Regions from separate parts of the Homo sapiens genome. Here region 1 is linked to region 2. Evidence: fine-mapped QTL for protein levels in blood plasma. Region 2 holds a variant in brackets. A gene starts in the other region. All regions are shown on their forward strands. Region 1 holds the start of LACRT (lacritin). Region 2 has its middle 84 kb from the start of LINC03031.

What was found. A credible set is the group of variants that fine-mapping cannot tell apart. PIP is the posterior inclusion probability: the model's chance that the variant is causal. Protein levels are from antibody-based Olink assays in UK Biobank. Linkage for the fine-mapping came from a reference panel and not from the study's own genotypes, which makes the PIPs less certain.
Region 1: LACRT starts here. The variant in region 2 is the best candidate, but not a certain one, in a credible set for the plasma level of the LACRT protein (UK Biobank, PIP 0.63).

The regions. Positions count from the first base shown.
Region 1 is chr12:54,630,861-54,639,193 of GRCh38, forward strand. LACRT (lacritin) reads right to left here and starts at 4,035. Exons shown (of 5, transcript NM_033277.2): 1 at 3,924-4,035; 2 at 2,320-2,373; 3 at 1,381-1,521; 4 at 878-979; 5 at 1-93. The coding sequence starts at 3,981. The coding sequence ends at 32.
Region 2 is chr11:31,953,572-31,961,904 of GRCh38, forward strand. No RefSeq gene overlaps it. Among named protein-coding and RNA genes, the nearest start is that of LINC03031, 84 kb to the right of the region's middle. The variant A/C (reference allele first, on the strand shown) is at 4,532.

The DNA of each region.
Region 1 (8,333 bases), not on the chromosome of region 2:
TAAGTCCAATGATCCCATTCTTTTCAGCTTCTCATGCCCATGGTTTTAATAGACTGAATTTCTTCAGTAATTTTTGTGCAAATTCACTTCCATCTAGAAGGAAAGATGAGACAAATGAGGCTTTTAGGACCCCAGGCACCAGCTCCACCCCTTCCATTTCTCCTCAATTCCATCTCTGCTTTCCAGACTTACTGAGACTCTGGAGAGGCTTACACAGAAGTTGGAGGGATTGAGATTAGATTCACCAGAGCCTGAAGGACCTACCCTCTTCCCCACCTTGGCAGGGGCAGGGGACAAGAATAGAAACAAGCAGGCTCTGCTGCGGGAAGGTAGGGGGTTAGACCCCAGGTGAATCAATATCAGACAACATGGCACATTGAATCTGTTCTTTTTTTTTGAGACAGGGTCTTTCTCTGTCACCCAGGATGGAGTGCAGTGGCACAATCTCGGCCCACTGCAATCTCTGCCTCACGGGCTCAGGTGATCCTCCCACCTTAGCCTCCCAAGTAGCTGGGACTACAGGCATGTGCCACCACGCCTGGCTAATTTTTGTATTTTTTTGTAGAGATGGGGTATCGCCATGTTGCCCAGGCTAGTCTTGAACTCCTGGGCTCAAGCGATCCACCTGCCTTGGCCTCCCAAAGTGCTGGGATTACAGGCGTGAACCACCGTGCCCAGCTGGCAATTTGAATCTGGATGAGAAATTGGAAACATATGAAAGCACAAAGTGAGGGGTCTTCAACAGCAGGGGCTGTGGCAATTCCAAGTCTCATATGTGAGGTGGAAATGGGGGCAAGTTCTGTCCCATATCCCACCCCCGGATGGTGGGTGGTGAGTATTCTCATTCCCACAAAGCCTTGCCTTGGGATGCACTCACTTTCGATGAATTGTTTTCCACCTGGCACGCCTCCGTGCATTCCTTTTCCTGCTTTTGCAAGGGCTTGTTCTGTTAGTAAGATACTTTTCTCCACTATGGATTCTAATTTTGGAGCAGAACAATCACATCAGCAGAAAAATCACCTCATTTAAAGAGAACTCTGCATTGCCCCACCTGCACCCGCCCCCCACCCCCACTCCACCCAGGACATCATCCCTACAGAAAGTCCTAAAGTGCAGAAGTTTTGCTGAGGGCTCCAGCACTTCTCTCATAGGAAGTTGTGTGAGCCAGGACAGAAACCATGTATTGTGCAGGCTGCAACATCTACTATTGTGAAAACGTTGTGTGTGGGTGCAATGCACAATCCCATTTGTGCCTTTGTGTTCAGCTGTTTGAGTCTACCTGCTTCTCACCAGGCTTATCTCTGTGCGTGGAGGTGTGATGTGGGCCTGCAGCCAGAGACTTTTCTAGGTTGTTGATCTGGCATAGAGACAGAGACTTACTCAGGGGGTTTAGTTCCTGCCTGCTTGAGGTGACCTTGGCTGTCCCCTGAACTGCTGCCGCCGAAGTCTCCTGGGCTGTTGTGGTTGTCTCTGGGGGTGAAGCTGGTTCTGCTGGACCTGAGATCTCTTCATTAGGCTTAGCTGTGAATGCACAAATTGATGGATTTTAGCAAAGTGAAAGTGTTTGTTTCTTTTGGAATGGGTTGCAGGGCCCCAGGATACCTAATGTGTGCTGGGTGCCAGGATACAGAAGTGATATGGCTTAAACGCTGCCCCCTTAAGGGAGATAGCATTTCTGCATGCTGTGTGTCTCTTGGAATGCAGCGGGCAGGGTTGGGGAAGGATTTGGACTAGGGGATGGTGAGAATCGGGGAGCACTTCATAGAGAAGCTGGATCTTGAAGGCAGGATGTTAGCAGGAGAGGATGTACCAAAGGGGCTTCCCTGGGGGCAGGCAGTGAGTAAGAGGTCAGGCGAAGGCATGTGTGGGGAATGGAAACAAGTTCAATTTAGCTGATGTGGGTGCGACATAAAAGAGAGTCATGGAAAATGGGGTTGGAAAATGAGGTTAGAGGCCAGATAATGGTTATCTTGCTAAGGAATTGGGAGTAATGGGAGGTGTTTGCAGGTGAAGGTATTAATGCCATGTGAGACATTGCCCTTACCACTTAACCTCATGTTTCTCTCCCTTTTATTCACAATAACCTTTTCCCCATGCTCCCTATTGTCCTTGCCTCTCTGGGTCATCCTCTTTTGTCCTTAGCCTTGTACCATTTCAACCCATGCCACCTTCTTTATTATATTACCTGCCCCTCCCCATTACCACCAAGCACAGAATCCAGATCTCCTCCCACTGGCTTCTTCTCCCAGCCACCACTCACATCCCTAACTGTTAAACCTTCCCAACGAGGGCTAGGGCAGCAGGGAGAGGAGGACTCACAGGTCCCAGCTTCCTGGGCAGGATCAGCACCCGTCGAGTCAGAGGAGGCATCTTCTGCAATGGGGGAAACATGCCAGATGAGAGCAAGGACCGAACCGGACCTACTCGAGCCACCCTCCCCTCCCATTCCCAAAGCTTATCTCCTGGGAATGCTCATGGATAGAAGGGGATCAATTTCCCTTTGGGTTGGACATGCCCTTCCACCATATCAGCGGGTCTACTGGGGCACTCTCTGATGTTTAACTCCTGTGGCTTTTGAAATAACTTCCCCTCTGAGAAGTGTAATGTCTCTTGGAACAGTGCCTTCCTCCTGACTGGCCCCTGGCTTGGTAGGCTTCCCTGAGGTGTCTGTCATGGAGCTGGCCATGGTCAGAGGGGCTCAACCTCCTCTGTGGTGGAGGAGGACAGTATGTGGGGGTTATGGGGCCATATTTGAGCGATTTGCAGGATTGAGACCCCAGCCTTGATTCCCTTTATTCTTTCAACACAACATTTATGCAAAGCTCTGTGCCAAGAGATGGAGGTGCAGTGCTGAAGAGGGCAGACAAGACCCCTGCCCTGACAGAGCTTACATCTGTCCTTTTACGAAATTATTTAATGGCTGGTGTGACAGTGCTGGAAGGGAACGTGCAGCCTGGTGCGAGAAGGGCACATGGATCTGATTTGTTCCGCATGTGCATGGAAGGCCTTTTTGGGGAATTATATGTAAACTGAGATTTTCTAGATGAAAAATCATTGGCCAGGTGACATTAGAGTTGGTTGGGGGAAGGGGCCAGGGAGAGGGAAAGCATTCTAGACGAGGAAAGGACAAGAAGGAAGATCCTGATGTTCAAGGAACAGCAGGATCATCATGGCCCAAATAGTGCTTCTGTGGATCAAAAAAGGCATCCCAGCAGGGCACGGTGGCTCACGCCTGTAATTCCAACACTTTGGGAGGCCAAGGCAGTCGGATCACCTGAGGTCAGGAGTTCGAGACCAACCTGGCCAACATGGTGAAACACCGTCTCTACTAAAAATACAAAATTAGCTGGGCAAGGTGGCATGAGCCTGTAGTCCCAGCTACCCAGGAGGCTGAGGCAAGATAATCGCTGGAACCCAGGAGGTGGATGTTGCAGTGAGCAGAGATCGTGCCACTGCACTCCAGCCTGGGCAACAGAGGGAGACTCGGTCTCAAAAAAAAAAAAAAAAAAAAGGCATCCCTTCCTCCTAAGAGACACAGCCAGGGGCCAGGCTCACTGCTTGGCAAGTAGAGTGTCGGCCAGATTTTAGCTTCTACCACTCCTTGCCTGGGCACCCTCGTGTAGGGGACACCCTGCTCAACTACATGCAGGGGACACCAGAGAAGCCAGTGTAGCTGAGGCATAGTGGGTAAACAATGGTGTGTGAGGAGATGAGCTGGGAGGGCAGGCAGAGGCCAGAGAGTTCTGGGTTCCTCTGGCCAGTGGGGTGCAGAGGCCACGTGTGGAGAACTGGGAGAGGAGTCACTTGCAGAGGCAGGGAAACCAGAATAGCACTGAGAGAGGAGGAGAGGGGTGAAGGCAGGAGTGAGGGGCTCCTTGGACTGGGAGGACTCTTGTGGGGCGCAGAGGAAAGGCCATACTCACCAGCATAGACCAGGGCCCCTGCTACAGCTGCCAAGAAGAGGAGAGTGGTAAATTTCATTCTTTGGGATGAGGAGTGAGTATAACCACAGAATCTGCAGAAGGTCTGGGGAATAAGGATGCTGAAATTGCTGGGCCCTTTTAAGGATATCAAGGGCCAATGGGAACCAAGCCTGGAGAGGTGTGACTTCCGCATCCTCCTCCCCTTCTTCCCCAAACTGTCACCTGCTAAGTCAACAAGGGCTAGGTTGGGCTGGCTGATACCTGGGATCCTTGCAGGCAGGTCCTGGATAGGAGCCTTTCTCTAACTCCCAGCCATCCCTTTTCTTTCTCCCTCCTCCCTTCCCCACCACACCTGCCCTCTGGGTTCACACCCCTGGGCTCTCAGGGACGGTAGGTAGAGCACATTTCACTTGGGGAGATTCTGGGATGTGTCTGTTGAGGGTTCTGGTAGAGAAATCTTAATCTTGTCATCTCTCCAGGAGGAGGTTGAGGGCTCAGGGGATTACATTGTCCACCTTCTGTCCCAGTCTACATAGGACTCAGTGCAGGGTTTGAAGGTTTCCCCAAACTAAGTGAGCCCGTTTCCTTGGGAGACCACACCTAGAACACTTGAGGCCTGAGTTCCTGGCTGCTTTCTCCCCATGAGGGGATGGGTTTGAAGGCGTGTGTGCCTTCTCTGGAGTTGTTCTCTGTTCTTGACATTATCCAGCCCCTAAAAAGAACTCCTCCAGGCTCACATAGGCCTGTCAATCTCTGTCTTCAGGCCTACTCAATGGGACCCCACATTTCTGAGAGAATCTCCTGGTCAAAGCATGATGGTGGTTCACTGAAATTGGAGCTTGGTTCTGACTTCAAGTGGGGAGCTGACCCATGGTGTGAATAATCCAGAAAAGCAGATTATTCTAAAGAAGCTTCTCTTTGACTTGGCGTTTCTTCCTTTCCTGATCTGGGACTCTAGAGGTCTGGATTTTGAGTTCTGGCTTTGTCATATGAAAATGTTAGGATTTGAAAAGTGATAGGATTTTTATTTGTTGTCTAGGAGTTGTGGCTCCTATGTACAGCATAGTGGTGGAGATTAAGTGGGATAATATACGGCAAAGCATTTTTTTAGACAGCGAAGTTCTATGGAGTTGTGTGGGGTTCTTGTACCATCTTTCCAAGTAGGTTTTTGTCCAGGCTGGTGCTAAATGCTAGATATTAATAGAACGGGCCGTGGAGCAGGAGTCAGTTGAGGGGCTGAAGGGTGGAGAATAAGGTGCTGGATGTCAATTTGTGACTTTCCCCTTGCTTGGTGTTGGCATTCACCCAGCCCCATGTGGGCTGATTCCGGAGGCTTCTCTGCCTCATGGTAGCTCTGAAGATGAGTGTGAGAAGGGGGTATTGAAGAGTTTTCAACATGAGGGTGTTTTGGGTGCCAGGGTTTAGAACATTAATCTTTTCAGGAGATAAAGGAAGATAAAATTAATGGGGTGGGACATTAAAGCCTTGGCAATTGCTACCTGCCTGAGGGTCTGGGCCTGGGAGCCTTGAAGGTGGTGGTGGCCTTACCTGGAATGGGGAAGGCTGAAGAACAAGAGAAAGTTTTGATGGCACCAGTGCCCTGGGTATGTGCACATACGTGTGTGCACGTGTGTGTACACTGCAGAAGGAGAAGTCCTGCAGATCCCAAACAGATCTAGATCCCGAGCAGTCTCCATGAGCACATTAAAAAAGTCAACAGGAGCAAATTATGCTATTTGCACAAGACTTTTCTAAGAGGAAATGAGAACTTTGGCGTCAACACTAGAACTGTCACAGAGCAGGGTCTTTCCAAATGTCACCGCATAGCCCTTTCCTCTCCCAAATCTTCCTCCTGGCCTCAGTAATTAAAGAGGCAAGCATTTACATAAATAGGGATGAGGTGAAAGTAAGGACATTTGTTTTATAGAAAATTTTCATTATTCTATAACAGGGCCCAGAGAAATGTTACCCCAAATTATAGAGCCTGGGAAAGAATTGGGTGCATAGATTAAAGAGGCAGACCTCATGGATATGGGTGAGAGGCTGCTCTGTGCAATGTCTTGACGGACCTCATGGATATGGGTGAGGGGCTGCTCTGTGTGATGTCTTGTTTTCTAGGTTATCTGACCTCCATGATGACTGTCAGTTCGCTGATCTGTGTCTTGTCTCATGGGCTGCTCGTTGTACCTCTCTCCCCTCTGCCTCAGGTTTATTCTCTCTCATCTCTGCACTGGTCTGGAAGGATGCCTCTATGGGCTGTATCACCTGGGCTCCCATGCCCTCTAGCTTCGAGTTGAGTTTGGCCAATGGGAGACACAGGTGGGAGATGGGAGGGTGGGAAAAGGGAGAGATTAAGGCATTTGTTCCTCCTGCTCCCTCTCTTGCTTTGGCATGTGTGGTAGGACGACTTCAGAGATAGCTCCTGGTGATGCCTACGTCTTGGCATTGGTGCCCTGCTGTAATTTCCTCTGCTTAACTGGGCTGGGTCTCGAGATTCACTCCTAACAAATAGAAGATGGCAAAGTGATGAGGTAGTCAGTTCTGAGACTATGACTTTAGTCTTGTTTACACACACTCTGTCTCTGGATCTTCTCAGCTTGCTCTGATGAAGTGAGTGGCCATGTGTGAGGCTGTCCTGTGGAGAGACCTACGTGGCAAGAAACCGAGGACAGCCTCCAGCCTGTAGCCAGTAAGGAGCCGAGGCCCTTAGTCCAGCTATCTGTGAGGAACTCAACCCTGCCAGCTACCACGTGACTGAGCTTGGAAGTGGGTCTTTCCTCAGCTGAGTTTTGAGGTGACCGCAGCCTCGATGATACCTTGACTGCAGCCTCATTAGAGACTCTGTGTCTGAGGGCGCATCTGTACCTGGACTGCTGATCCATAACAACTGTGGATAAGAAATCATGTGTGAAGCCACCAAATGTTTGAATAATTTTTACAGCCACGGATACTTAATGCAGCATGGTGTGGCAATGGCTGTTTCTCTCTGACTGCAGCTTCTGTCTGGTCCCTGTTTCAGAGCGCCATCTCTTGTTGTCAGGTGACATTATTCACCCCCACCCCCCAACACGCTGCTTCAGACTTCCTGCTGTTGCTAGTCCATACTTGAATCTCTGTAAATAATAGATACATTTTTCCTTAAAGAACCTTTTTTAAAAAAAGCCCTCCTGAGAACCACAAACCACTGCTCAATGAAATAAGAGGACACAAACAAATGGAAGAACATTCCATGCTCTTGGATAGGAAGAATCAATATCGTGAAAATGGCCATACTGCCCAAGGTAATTTAGAGATTCAATGCCATCCCCATCAAGCTACCAATGACTTTCTTCACAGAAGTGGAAAAAACTACTTTAAAGTTCATATGGAACCAAAAAAGGGCCTGCATTGCCAAGACAATCCTAAGCAAAAAGAACAAAGCTGGAGGCATCACATTACCTGACTTCAAACTATACTACAAGCTTACAGTAACCAAAACAGCATGGTACTGGTGCCAAAACAGATATAGACCAATGGAACAGAACAGAGGCCTCAGAAATAACACCACACATCTACAACCATCTGATCTTTGACAAACCTGACAAAAACAAGAAATGGGGAAAGGATTCCTTATTTAATAAATGGTGCTGGGAAAACTGGCTAGCCATATGTAGAAAGCTGAAACTGGATCCCTTCCTTACACCTTATACAAAAATTAATTCAAGATAGATTAAAGACTTAAATGTTAGACCTAAAACCATAAAAACCCTAGAAGAAAACCTGGGCAATACCATTCAGGACATAGGCATGGGCAAGTACTTCATGACTAAAACACCAAAAGCAATGGCAACAAAAGCCAAAATAGACAAATGGGATCTAATTAAACTAAAGAGCTTCTGCACAGCAAAAGAAACTACCATCAGAGTGAACAGGCAGCCTACAGAATGGGAGAAAATTTTTGCAATCTACCCATCTGACAAAGGGCTAATATCCAGAATCTACAAAGAACTTAAACAAATTTACAAGAAAAAATCAAACAACCCCATCAAAAAGTGGGCAAAGGATATGGACAGACACTTTTGAAAAGAAGAGATTTATGCAGCCAGCAGACACATGAAAAAATGCTCATCATCACTGGCCATCAGAGAAATGCAAATCAAAACCACAATGAGATATCATCTCACAGTAGTTAGAATGGCAATAATTAAAAAGTCAGGAAACAACAGGTGCTGGAGAGGATGTGGAGAAATAGGAATGCTTTTACACCATCGGTGGGAGTGTAAACTAGCTCAACCATTGTGGAAGACAGTGTGGCGATTCCTCAAGGATCTAGAACTAGAAATACCATTTAACCCAAAGATCCCATTACTAGGTATATACCCAAAGGATTATAAATCATGCTACTATAAAGATGCATGCACATGTATGTTT
Region 2 (8,333 bases):
GTCCAGCTGCTGTAGACAGTGCAGCTCTCTCAGGGCTGAATGTCCCAGGCATGTGGGACATTACCCCAGTACAGCAAGAGATGAATTTCCAGAGTCCAGAAAGGACTCTGATCGAAAACACCTGCTGTCCTGGGAAGTAGTACCATCTCTGGAAAGGGTCCAGTAAAAACCAGACAGGTCCTTAAACATAAAGGAAACAAGGGTAGCCCTGGCTTCCTTTCTGTCTTCCACAGACTCAAAAACAAAAATACAGAAAAGGTACAGTAGCCTTGGGGTTTGACCACTATTAATTATGAGGGGCACGAAAATGGGAAGTGCTTCGGAAGCAACTGAGATGGTCTCTGGGGAGCAATTTGCCCACTCCCATGTGAGGCCAGTGAGCCACAGCTTAAGGATCACATGTGTCTGTTAGACTTGGGCAGCCCTCAGCCAGGACAGAGGCAGCAAGGCCCAGACCCAGCTCCCGACTCTAGCATTATTTCTCCACAGCTTGACAGGTGGGTGCCTGGGCAAGCATCTGCCCCCTCTTTTTCCTTCCCTTTTCTTGTCTTGTGCTCATTCTCCTCATGCATCCTCAATGGACGTCAAGTGTAAATAGAAGGCTCCGACTCCCAGGTCAGGCGGCTGTCAGGGGTTCCCTCCTTCTCTCTGAAATGCTCACTGTCCCTGCCAACTCTTTATTCTGTACCTGTCAGAGCTGGCTCCCTCCAATGTCTCTATGGACAGATTCCCTCCTCAGTGAAGAGTGTCAGTGACCCAAGAAGTCCCTGGAATCAGGCCGTCTCTCAGAGCAGAGACGGTTTCAGCTGGGGGTTTTTCCTCTCCCTTTCACCAGTCCAGCATTTAGCGTGAGGAACTATTTATGCATGAGGTGGGCCTGGGTGATAGTTATGGGGAAAGGGGTGCTGTGGAAGGATTCTACCAGATACAGGATGCCAGCGTCATCCCCAGTGCCACATCTTGCTACATTCCTACTATTATGGCCCCCATACTGGTCCAGACAGAGCAAGACCCTGGGAAGGTTGGGCATCAGGTAGAGTTGGCTTTTGAAGTCTCCCTCATGTCAAGTGGAGATGTCCAGCCAGTGTGTGAGGAGGGGTGATATGATTTGGCACTGTGTCCCAACCCAAATCTCATTTCCAATTGTAATCCCCAAGTGTCAAGGGAGGGACCTGTGATCTCCGTGTGTTGAGGAAGGAAAGTGATTGGACCATGGCGGTGGTTTCCCCCAAGCTGTTCTCATGATAGTGAGTGTGTTCTCACAAGATCGATGGCTTTATAAGTGTTTGGAAGTTCCTTCTTCATGCTTCTTTCTCCTGCCACCTTGTGAAGAAGGTGCCTGCTTCTGCCATGATTGCAAATTTTCTGAGGCCTCCCCAGCCATGCGGAACGGTGGGTCAATTAAAATTCTTTCCTTTACAATTACCCAGTCTCAGGTAGTATTCTTTATAGCAGTGTGAGAATGGACTAATACAAGGGAAGAGGCAGGTCATTTGTTGACACCATGGGAGTTGACACCATGGGAGTTGTGGTAGAGATTTCTGAGGCAGGCTGTGTGGATCTGAGGCGAGAGTCTGAGAGAACACCCAGTTAGCAAGAGGGAGTAGCAAGAATTTGGAAAGGAGGCTGGAGGGAGACCTTAGAGGAGTAGAGCGGAAACCAGGAGAATGTAGCACTTCATCAGGTCAGAGAGGAGAGGATCAACAGTGTTGTGTTGCCAGGAGATCAAGGAGGCTCAAGCCTGAGGAAGGGAGATGGTTGGTGATTAAGATAGATCCCGAGCACGGTGGCCAGGCATGGCTGTGCACACTGCACACCCCCAGGGGGAGTCGTCTACACCCTCGTCTGTGGGATGGTGACCCCTGGAGTTGTGTAGTGTATAACTTGTGTGGCTACTGGAGACACCCTGCTCATGAGAATCTTATCAGCCTAGGGGTGAAGGAAGAAGCCCCATTATGAGCTGCTGAAGTGTGAGCAGGAGGCATGGTGGAGCTGGAGCAGTGAGGGTGATCTGTGAAAGGAGTTTAGATGTGAAGGAAAGAAAAAGATATAGTGGCTGGAAAGCATATCTGCCTTGAGGGAAAACAACCTTATTTTACACTTGGAAATCTGAGCATGATTTAGCCAAAAGCAACAACAGCAACAACAGCAACCCCACTAAAGTAGGAGAGAGAACAGATAAGGGAGAGCGAAGGGAGAGAGGAATCCATCCATTCAGAAAGCAGTCTTTATTGCCAGCCTCCTGAGTGTCTTCTCATCGTGTGCTGGAATGTAGCTGTGGAGACAAAACAGCTCCCGCCCTCACGAAGCTTATAGTTAGTGACCAGTGACACTATAGATAGGGAGTGAAGGGTGGGTGGGGCGGCGTTGGGTTTGTGGGGCAGGGCAGACTTCTCTGAGGAGGTGACCTTTGAGCTGAGACCTGGATGATGAGAAGGAGCGCACCCTGTGAAGACCATGGGGAGGAGCGTACCTGGCAGAGGCAGTGGCTGGTGCAGCAGTTCCCAAGGTCAGGCAGGAAGATCCCAGCCTGGCTGGGTCAGAGCTGCAGAAAGGGCTGGGTGGTGAGCCTGGGTCAGGCAGGGCCTCTCAGGCTATGGGAAGATGTTTCCATGAGAGTACCGTGACATGTACTCCTCTCTTATGGAGGAGAGGTCACCTACACATGTCACTGTACTCTCATGGAAACCGGAACCTATTGGCTTGGGATCCTCTTGAGATCTGGGATAATCTCATGGCCTGGGATTCTCTTGAGGGTCTCAGTCACCTCCCTATCCTGGCATAGAGTGAAATAACTGAGGCTTGAATGAAAGTCTTCCTCCAAGTCAGCCATCAGAAACATGCCTTATCTGAGTCAGGAAGAGTTTAAATTCATGGCTTCGTAGGAAGGTCTGTGAGTCAGGCCCAAGCTCAGGGCGTTTCTACAGGCCCTTACACATGCTATGTATGTGGGGACAGGGGTGGACTGAGGCATTTCAGTAGTCCTGAGTCACCTCACCCACATAGACACCAGCTGCACTAAACTTTCCAGGTTGATGAGGTTAACTCTGAAGCCCTCCTGCCATTATTTCTGGATCCCTGAATTTCCCTGCAGTGTTCTTTCTCTATCCACACTGTTCGCCTGCTACATCTTGCTGCTCAAGCTTCTTCTTGGGGTACCCCCTTAGCTCAGCTTAAAAATTACATCCCTTATTTTTTAGCCATTCTCTCATCCTCATAAAAATTTCTATCTCCTTAATGCAGACATTAGCAAGAAAGCAATCTAATTGAAAAAATTCATGCTAAGGTGTTGGTATCACCATCACACTCATGGGGGTATTTGATTGTTGAAAAAAGAAAGATATGTGCCCAGATTACAGCATTTACTCAATGCATTGAGGACACACATGTTTGCCAAGGGATGGGCGTTAGAAAGATAAGAGAAAGGTTTAGGAATGGTAAGCCTTCCCAAATCTCCTAAAACCTTGTGCCTAAGGCTAACTTTGTTTCCAGATCCCAAAAGACAGAAAAGACAGTCCTCCACATTTGCAAGCCAAGATCAAGGTAGCTTGATGGTCTGAGGACAGGATAGTTACAAAGCACAGTTAGATTCTTAAGGTGCCTGCGTGCCTACCATTGGGTCAGCCCCAATCTGAAACCAGCTTCTCCGATTGGGGTTAAAATAACACCAAAACAAAACAAAGCAAAACAAAAAAACAAAAAAATAAACAAGGATGAAGCAACATATGTTGGAAACCTACGTGTATGTTATTTTATTTACTCTTCATCACAATCCCATGATCAGATTGTATATTGTCCCATTTTCCAGATGAAACTGAGGCTCAGAAATATTTAGTGATTTTCCCAGGGTCATGCAAATATACTTAAAGCACTGGGATTCAAACCAGGCCTGTCTGACTCCAAAGCTCCATTCCTCCTCCTGTGCCTCAGGGTTAAAACTCTATCCTAAGGCGGTGGCAGCTGTCCCGGCCAGGGCATTCTGAGAGCCACTTGCAGCTCTTCCATTTACCAGGTTGAGATTTACTTCCTGTCTCTGGGCTTCAATTTTCTCATCTAGAAAACTGGGAGACAGACGAAGTTCTTTGAGGTTCCCTTGCAGGCCTAAGCATCACCGTGTTGGGTGATTCTTCCTTTGATAAGTCAGTGTACAGCTCATTTGATGTGCAAATGTCAAAATGTCAGCAGTGCCATGAACCCTTGAGCATTCGGCTCCTTAGAGAGAAGCCTCTTGAAGGGCGGCAGGAGGTGGGCCACCTTGGACCGGCAAGTCCACAGAGGCCTGGAGAGATGTGGTGCACAGGAGAGAGGTAGATCCTCCAGCTAACCCTGGGATTTCCCGGGGAATGGGCATTTGTGTACCTCCTTGTGGACAGGGCCTGAGCCCATGGCCCGATGATCACCTGAGTTTTTACAAGGTGGTTGAGAGTTTGGGTGTGTTTTTCCTCTCTCCTTTTGAAAACCAAGAGGTCAGCGTGAGTGTAATTCTGACACATGAAATCTGCTCCTTGTTTGGAAACACCCTTTTCAAATA[A/C]ATCTTGAGATGGGATTAAGAGAACAGTTTTGGCTCGTTTTCAGGACTGTCATCTGTTGAACATCTCCCAGCTCATTTGAAGGAAGTGACAGAAGAGAGTGAGATTTCAAATCAGGGAAATTGGCGACAGGCTCTGCTCAAATTGGCCTCCCCACCTCCAGCGTGCAGCCCGCAGAAAACAAAAGCTCCGGAGTAGGAAAGTGACACAGCGCCACCTCCCGGTAGCCTGGCCGGCCAAGGCCTCTGGCTTAAGCGGGCCTCTGGCCTGCCAAAATGCCTGGGGAGGGAAGAGCTGTGTCTCTGCACTCATAAGATGGGAACAGGGGGGTTCTGGGAGCTCCAAACGTTTCAGTTCACAGTGTGTGCAGTCGTGTGTCTTGCGCATACACACATGCACATAGACAGCCAATTTGAACACCGAGGATTAACTTGTCTTAAAGGGGCAACTCTCTCGTCCATCTACTTTTAGGCAGATTTTAAAGACGATCATAGTAGTTAGCATATGGACTTTGGAGCCTGGTTGCCTGGGTTCAAATCTCAGCTTGGCACTTAATAGCTGTGCAACCTTGGCCAACTTACTTAACCTCTCTGTGTCTGTTTCATCTCCTACAGAATAAGGATAATAAGAGTATCAACCTCAGAGGATCACTGCAAGAATTGAGTGGGATACATATGACGTGCTTAGCACAGTTTGTGGCCCATGGTAAGTGCTCAGTATGTATTAGCTATTTTTGGTATTCAATTAAATATAGCTCACACATTTTTTTTTTCTTCTTTACACCCACCTGTTCGGCCATTTCTAACTGCCTGTTGGCTTATACATCCTATGCAGATGTTTCTGGTTCAAGGAAGATAATGCTAAATCCACAGTTTTGCTGAAATAATTGACCCTACCCAAACGCACACCCTAAACTGAATGAACTACTTGGCAGATTTTGAGAAAAATCATCCTTGGGTAACTCCCATGTATTTTTTTTGTTTTTGTTTTCGAGCAGCCTGGCTGTGCAGTTGGGGCAGTTGATGCTTCAGAGTAAACCCAGGAAGGCTTCATGGGCCTGTGGATGATACATACAGCACTCTCAAATGTTGAGCTTCAACTCATGAGGCAATATTAGTCCTGGATTTTCCTACATTTGTCTGTAGATTGCTCCAGGGACACTGGCAGATGAGGAAAGGGTTTCATTTCAAGCCTTCCTGCTACATTTGAGCCAGAAGGTCTCTGGGAAGCTCCTTCATGGGGCCAGACTTGGGATGTGCATCCATCTTGATGGAAAGTTCTCCCAACCTAGAGAAAAGATGGTGAGGCAACAGGCTGCCAAGGTCAGAGGCTGGTCTTTCCCAAAGTCAACCGTAAATCAAAGCCTCCAAGGTGACCGACCACGTGTCACAGACACCAGCTCTGCAGTCTCTGAGCGGGTGGCACAGGGCTTGATGACAGGAGGCCACCCCTTCCCCAGCCCATCTGCTGCTAGGGAAGACCAGCGTGTGGGCTGTTCATTGCCACCAAGGAGGTTTTCCTGCTGTTTACTGAGGTTTAACTCTCCTTGTAAAGGAGGGCCTGGCCCAAACATCTGTTTCATCAAAGGGGTTGGAGTCTTGGAGACACAAAAGCTTCTCTCAGTGGCTCCATTCTATGGCCTTTATCGCTCCCAGAGTCGTCCTATTAATATGCTGAAACAGCCATGACTTTGCCACTATGAACGTGTCTAGGGAGCACAGCCAGGTTTCAGGGTGAGGAAGGAGAGAAAGGGAGAGTCCTTTGAATCCCCTCAGACTTTACACTTGGCTTCCTCTTATGGGTAAGACTTAACCATGACTCACCTGTTTTAGAATGTTTTGTTAGCCAATCCCTGATTTGCTTGAAACCTCCAAAGTCTCAAGAAAATAGCCTCAAGGGAACTTGGAGCTAAGTCGCAATGTCTCAGGCCTAATAAATAAACTGCATATGAGGACAGCACATGATCGAAAGAGCAAATGCCAGACCGGGAATCTTCAGGTCCAGCACTTGGAAGTCACTGGGATTTTTGCAGAAAACCATGAAGCATTAACGTTTTAAGTTTAAAGGATTAAATAGATAATTTAGGGCTACATCTGACTGTGGAGCCCTGGAGTCTCCTGCTATTTATTGGCTATTTAACTCTGCAGTAGTTACTTCACGTCTCTGAAACTCCATTTCCTCATCTGTCAAAGGGACGGAAAATACTGGGGTGAGGACTTAATGACAAATAATATGTTTTACTCCCTCTAGTGCTTGGCACGTAGACACTCAAACAATGGTAACCAAGTAACAAAAGTTTAAGAGAAATGTGTCAGAGAAGAAGCTAACTTGAGAAATGCTTTTCCATTGAAATTATTATTATTTAAAAAGTTTTGTTTTTGTAAATTGGGAAAAGAGTGCCACAGCTTGATGATAGTGGAGTGGCAGACGTGTTGTATGGCCCGGCTAGGGCAGGCGGCCCTGATATATGCAGCGGTGTGGCTTCCTGTGCTAGGTTAGGGTTCTCAACCTTCTCTACCTATGACAACACACCTATCCAGTGGCATGAGGTTGCCCAACCCACTCTCCTCATTGATGACAGGTTCGAATCCTAGCTCGATCACTAGCTTTGCATTATCTTGGGCAAGTAAATGAGTGATATGAATAGTACCTACCTTCCAGGTTTTGGGGGGTGGGTGGGTAACTGTGATTATGTAGATAAAGCACTGAGGACAGTCTTGAGCACAAAATAAATGCTCAATCCAAAAGAAAAAAATGCGTTCATGATTTCTGTATGATTTTCAGCCCCAGCTATAACCCCGTCTTTTTCACTCAGGGAAGCAATTTGGAAAATAACACTGTGATAGGGATACTCTTGAATCTGCTCAAAAATTGCTAAAACTCATTCACACATAGATTTAATCATTATCAGTAACAAATTATTTGTGAATGACTTCATAACTGTTGTAGATCACAAGTCCTCAAACGCAAATGGGTGCCATACTTTTCTCCAGGCTGCGTGAAATCTGCATTTGCTTCAGGTGGCTGCTGTAACAAATTACCACCAACTTGTTGGCTTAAGCCAATACGATTGTATTATCTTACAGTTCTGAAGCTCAGAAGTCCTAAATGGATGCCAGTGGGCTAAAATCAAGGTGTCGGCCGGGCTATGCTTTTTCTGCAGGCTCTAGGGGAGAATTGTTTGCTTGCCTTTTCCAGATTTTAAAGGCTACCTCCTTCCTTGGCTTGTGGCCACATTCTGTCTTCAAAGCCAGCAATGGTCAGATGAGTCTTTACTCCTATGCCATCTCTCTGACTCTTCTCCACTTAAGATGCCTTGTGATTACACTGAGTTCACCCCAATAATCCAGGATAATTGCCCTATTTTAAGATCAGGTGATTAGCAACCTTAATTCCATTTGCAGTTTCTACTTGCCATATGATACAACAGATTCATAGGTTGTAGGAATTAGGATTGTGGACATCTTTGGGGTTGGCAGCTGGGGGCGGCAGTGGGTATGGGAGGGGCATATTTTGGCAACCACATGGGATAACTTTGAATCTGCCAAAATTACTTAAAATTCATTCACACATATTGTTGCTTTAATCATCAGTAACAAATACAGTGAATAACTCCACAATCAATATTGATAAGAGGGCCTCAAATACGGTGGGGGCCATACTTTTCTCTAGGCTACATGAAATGTGAAAAGATAAGATAATATGGCAATTTTTAACTGAAAATAAACTTACTCCATTTAAAGGACTATTCTTTTGGTATTAAAATGTTGGCAGCAGATGATAGTTGGCTTTTAAAATTGTTGA